Regions from separate parts of the Homo sapiens genome. Here region 2 is linked to region 1. Evidence: fine-mapped expression QTL. A gene starts in region 1. The other region holds a variant in brackets. All regions are shown on one strand. Distances are between the middles of the regions.

Region 1 (2,500 bases):
CCGGGCGCCCCCTCCCACCACCGCCACCCCCGCCGCCACCTCCCCGCGGCTCAGCCATTTGCCAACTGACGCCCCCGTCAATAAAAATGCCCCAAGTGAGGCTGGGTGGGACGCGTGGGGGAAGGGCGCCGCGGGGGCGGGGGGTTCGCGGGGTTCGCGGGTTGCACAATATCCTAGAAGGTCCGCGGCTGGAGCGGACAGAGGAGAACCTGGGGCGGGGGAGGGGAGGAAAGGCGAGGCGAGGCAAGCTGCCCTGGCGCCTGCGGCACACGGTGCACCCAGGCCACCGCGGCGCTCCGCTTACCTTTCACCACCCTGTCGGTCGTCGACAACTTGGGATCAATTGCCTTGGGCTCGGACATCTCCAGCTGCCGGAGGACAGCGACGCGCTGCTCGTCCGTCCGACTGCACACCCCGACCGGACCGGCGGGCCAGACACTCAACGCCGCCGCCGCCGCCGCCGCCGCCGCGCTGCAAACCGCTCGGCTGGAGGTCTAGGCTCTGAGCTGGCTTTAAAGTTGCTGCCTTTTCCGCGCGTCCCTCCTCCGCCGCCGCCGCCTTCACTCCTCCTCCGCCGCTGCCGCCAGCCCCGCCGACTCGCTCCGGGCTGCGCGTGTGTGGTGGTTATTTATTTATTTTCTGAGCACGCCTCCCGGTTCTTCTTTTATTCTTGGGGGAAGGGGGATGGGGAGGAGAAGCGCACACACGAGCACCCACCCCGGCACGGAGACCCAGCACCGCGGAATGGAGCCCCACGCGCGCACACACGGCCAGGATTAAGACCGATCACATGGGGAAGGCCGGGGGCGAGGGAGGAGAGGCAGGGCCGCCGATGTCAGTGCCACCAGCCGCACCTTGGCGTCCCCGGCGGCGGAGAGGCGGCCGCCGCTGCTGCCGCTGCTGCTGCCGCTGCCGCTGTTGCTGCTGCCGCTGCCCCTGCTTCTCCACACAGAGCGCCGCCGCTGGTGCCGCGGCCGCCGGAGACGTCCCGCCGCCGCGATCGCCCGCGCTCGCCTCTGCCTCCCCGCGCCGCTCCTCCACTCACCAAGGCACAGCCGCCGAGCTCGGCAGACACAGTCCCGGGCACAACCTACCCCCCTCCGCCGCCGCCGCCGCCGCCAACACCGCGCCCGCCTCCGCCTCCTCCCCTTCCTCCTCCCGGCCCCCGCCTCTTGCGCGCCTGCAGCCTCCTCCTCCCCACTGAGCCCGCCCCCGACCTCCCGCCCCGACGCCGGAGTTCCTCGCGTTCATTGGCTAGAGGGCGCATCACTCAGTGCCAGGTGGCGGCCTCCCCGCTTGTCCCGCCTCCCGCTCCTCCTCATTGTCCCCGCCCCTTGCTCTGTTTTCTTCCAGCTGCCGGACCAGCGGGCCTGCCGCCTCTACGGACCAGTCCCTGCTCAGGTGTCACTTTTGCTGGCAGGCCGAGATTAGGGCAGGAGAGTGGGCAAGGCGTCGCGGCCAGGAGGAGAAGGGCTCTACCACGCCACCCTCCTTTGGCCTCCGAACGCGGACCCCGCACACACACACCCGCGCCTCTTTGGCAAGCGTGCCTTGTCGGCTGGGTTAAGCCGCAGTGTGAGTAGCCAAGTGCAGAGGGTGTCTCCGGGTGTGTGCGTGGCCCACAAGAGGGCAAGAAGAGAGAAGGCGGGGATAGGAGGGAAGAGGGTGGGGGTGAGAGGCAGCCCTGAGAGGGCGGAGGAAGGAAGAGGCTGGGAGCTCGGCGCCCGCGGCGCAGCTGCCGTCGCTGCCGCAGCTGTCCAGGGAGGATCGCCAAAACGGCGACGAATAAACAACTTACCTTGCGGAGAAGAGCTACGACTGCGATGCGGTGTACGGTTGTTTTTGCTTTTGCGTTGGCGGCTTAGGGGCTGTTACTGTGTCCCACCCAGGCGTGCACACCGAGCGGCGGGGCGCTGTGGAACGCGGGAGCGGACTAGCGGAGGAGGATGCGGACCAAGCCCCAGCGACCCAGGGCAACTCGGAGCTACCTCGGGCAGCCCTGCGGGTCTCCGAGGAGAACCGAGGAGACGGGAGAAACATGGGAGAGGGTGGCCTTTTCCCTGTTCACACACACATGCACGCAGCCACTGGCCGGGACAGTTGACACCCATCTTCCTTCCCTGCTCCTTCCAGTCATTCTACACCCGCTTGGTGCTGCCAGTGCGGGCAGGGCCTTGGAGCCCAAAGCGGATCCCCACACTTGTCCCTACGGTCGGAAGGAAAGTAGAGGAGAGAAAGTCAGGCGCGGCAGGGCTAAGAGCAATAGTGGCCCAAATGTTCCTGGCCCGCCTGCTGCGCCACAGAGTCTGAAAAGCGGGTCTCCGTCTACCAGAAGGTGACCTCCACACAGCCCCTCTCCCCGACCAACTGCAGCACCCAAGGACTGGCAACGTGGTTGGAGCTTTTGGGGGGAATTATGAAGAAATCTGAATAAATTTCTCACCCTTCATGTTTCCTGTTTTATTTCCAAAGTCCTTCAGTATCAGGTTTTTCCTATTTC
Region 2 (3,021 bases), 320 kb before region 1:
TGCAAAACTTCTCTGTAACTCCAAAATGTTTAATATTAAAATTCTACCCCTTGACTTTAATTTGCATTTTTCTTATAATTCAAGATTTTAAAACTACAGCAACTGCAAAATGTGCACTATAACTTACTTACGGTGGATTCGAGATTCCTTATGATAAAAATGGAGAATGGTTATCACCATGGAGAGAGAGAGTACATAGCAAAGTTGTAAGTAGTCTACCCTTTTAGACAAATTGAAGGGCATCAGGCAATACATTTTGGAGTCGTATCAATGTATGTGGTTTAAAATATATAGTAAGTTTTCAAACCCATATAGAAAGGTTCCAACCCATATGTCTTTTATGTGTATGTGTGTTTGTGTGTAGGTTGAACCATAGAAAAACACAAACCAATGGATTTAAAATAAAATAAAACCAAATAACCTAAGTAAAAACACAAGTGAAAATCTGGAAATGAAACAAAGAACTGGAAAAACTTAAGTAACGTAAGTTTAAAAGTAAAGCAAAACATCCAGAATCACACCAGCACTGACATATTAGAACTATGTACTGCCCACTATTAAATGTTCTAAAGCGAATGTTAAATGAACACTATTAAATGTGTTCTAAAGCCCACAGTTTCTGATAATACACTTGCTGTGCCTTAAAATGTGCTTATCAGAAACTAGATTTCAGTCAGTTAGGTAGATGGTACATTTTGGACATGTAAATGATCCATTTATGCTAATGTTTTAGTAAGATATTTAATTTGGTAGAAAAACTTTTGTGTGTGTTTTTTTTTTAAAGTTGTTAAAATAATTCCTAGCTGTAAATTTAAAGGGGACGTTTACTTCTCAATACTATGTATCTTCCTACCTTCATTTAAAAATTTTTGTCTTTTTGTAAAAACTCAAAAGACACTGATTCGGAATATATTCATCTGAAAATAAAGACAATTAATGTGATGCAGCCATGATGTGATCATTCAGCAATACTATATTCATGAAGTTGATCATTACTCTTCATGTAGAAGTTTATTGAATAATATAAATGAGAATAGTGAGTCTTCTAGGTTGAAGGGCAGGGACAGAAAAGAAAATACAAAAAAGATTCAAAGAAAGATACAGGAAAATAAGCAAGAGGCCGAGAATGTTTTGAAAAATGTTATAGCATATTTTCATTTTAATTTTTTTCTGTTAAAGCCTCATCTAATAGCAATCTCCTATTGTTAAAATTGTATTGTATGTAATAATAATAGTAGTTAAAATTGATAACAAATGTAACAAAAGTGAAAGAATATATAGGACTGTGCTGCTAACATGGTAGCCACTAGCCTCCTGGCTTATTTTAATTAAATTTAATATAAATTAGATAAAAGAAAACGTTTAGTTTCTTGGTTATATTCCCTATATGCTCAACAGTCA[T/C]ATGCGGCTTCTGTATAGATACAGAAATTTCCACCATCACAAAGAGCTCTGCTGGACGGCACAGGTCTAAGGTCTAGAAAGCTACACATTTTAACACAAAATCTGTATTATAAAGGAAATGTTACTCTTTTTTCAAAAATAAAATGTGGTTCTATTCAGTCTCTTGTTTTCAATTGATAAATCAGAGAAAAGACACAAATGGCTTCCAATTTCCATTCAAGAGGATAATGAAATCATCTCCTGAAAATCTAGACATACAGGTATATTTTAGTGGTTATGTGTGTATGTGTTATCTCATAAATGAAACATAACCAGAATACTTATTAAAAATGTGATTAAAAAGTTGTTTTTGACAACGGAGTGGCTCAAAGTAGTCAAACCTATTGTGCATGTAGGCAACCTAAATGAGTTGTCCTGTAGCTAGGCTGAATATGTAGATTAACATGTGAATGAGGGAATGGGGGAAAGGTGGAGTAAAGACCACATTCCAGAGAATGAGGGAGCTATTATGTTGGACATGACTGATCAAACTGATTGGGGTTTCAGCCCTTCTGCCAGCTGAGAAGAAGAACCGAAGACCAAGACAGAGCTTAAATGAATGAATAAATCAGGGCTCTAATGACACAGCTGACTGCGATGCCCCAGCACACAGTCATACCCATCAGCCTGCTTACCGCTTTGCAGGGTTTGCTTCCCTCCAGAAAGTACTCCGCTGGGGAGCATGCCAGTTGGGGTCAAGCCTTTCAGCGTCAGCACACTCTCACTCTCTTCTCTGGAAGGCACAATGAGGGGCGACATTAACTTTTAATTTCTTTTGTGAAAAAGAAAGAAATGACTGAAAGGAAAAAAAATGCATATAAGCACCCACATTTCCCTCTATCTTGGCTCTCCGGATCTTTTTTTAAAATTTTTTTTAACATACTTTATTTTAATTTATTTATATACCAGTAATGTTCCATAAACGATTGCTACCATAAAGTTTACATTATCCAATTAGGGAGGTTCTGTTTCTTTTGAGTATCGAAGCTAGATAGATAAAGAAAACCATTTTGATTTTGTAATCAGGCATCTCAATACAAAGTGTTTGTTGTGCATTCTGTATGTTAAAAGTGAGCCATAGAGAATGCTGATGTTAAGTTTTTCAGCCAAGGCTCAGCAAAAATAAGGGGAAGTGATTTGATTTGACGGAATAAAAAAACAGAGCATATGGAGATTGAAAAAAAATCTGATTTGTGGATTAGGGAATCAGGAATTACATTCAGTGGACTTTGAGAAATTAAGGCATTTAGTAATTTAGATGTTACATGAAAAACACATAAAATAATGGCAAGCAGCCAATAAACCTACTGGTAAAATTTCCCAGATTTTTTTTTTCAGTCACTTTCCCCACTGATTTGCTAATATAAAATTATTTTCTTACTCAGCATGACAATTGTTTTACAATCAATCAGTTTTAAGTACATCATTATTTTAATTATATTTATTAATTACTTGACACTATTAATCATTTTGAATTGTTAAATCCTCATAATTAAATAACCATGACTAAATAACCACTCACTCTTTCCACATAGCAATATTGCAATCCTACATAACCAGAAAAAAGTCTTTAAAATACAA

Evidence for each region.
Region 2: its variant is fine-mapped to the expression of PPP3CA in whole blood (INTERVAL, PIP 0.93).

Annotation. Positions count from the first base shown.
Region 1 is chr4:101,346,435-101,348,934 of GRCh38, forward strand. It overlaps PPP3CA (protein phosphatase 3 catalytic subunit alpha), which reads right to left and starts at 1,092. Exons shown (of 14, transcript NM_000944.5): 1 at 305-1,092. The coding sequence starts at 362. It overlaps PPP3CA-DT (PPP3CA divergent transcript), which reads left to right and starts at 1,343. Exons shown (of 2, transcript NR_033874.1): 1 at 1,343-1,575; 2 at 1,890-2,449. RefSeq lists silencers at 1-247, 718-1,327.
Region 2 is chr4:101,030,192-101,033,212 of GRCh38, forward strand. PPP3CA (protein phosphatase 3 catalytic subunit alpha) reads right to left here. Exons shown (of 14, transcript NM_000944.5): 12 at 2,076-2,173. Among named protein-coding and RNA genes, the nearest start is that of LINC01218, 150 kb to the left of the region's middle. RefSeq lists an enhancer at 1,535-2,069 and a silencer at 1,781-2,075. The variant T/C (reference allele first, on the strand shown) is at 1,402.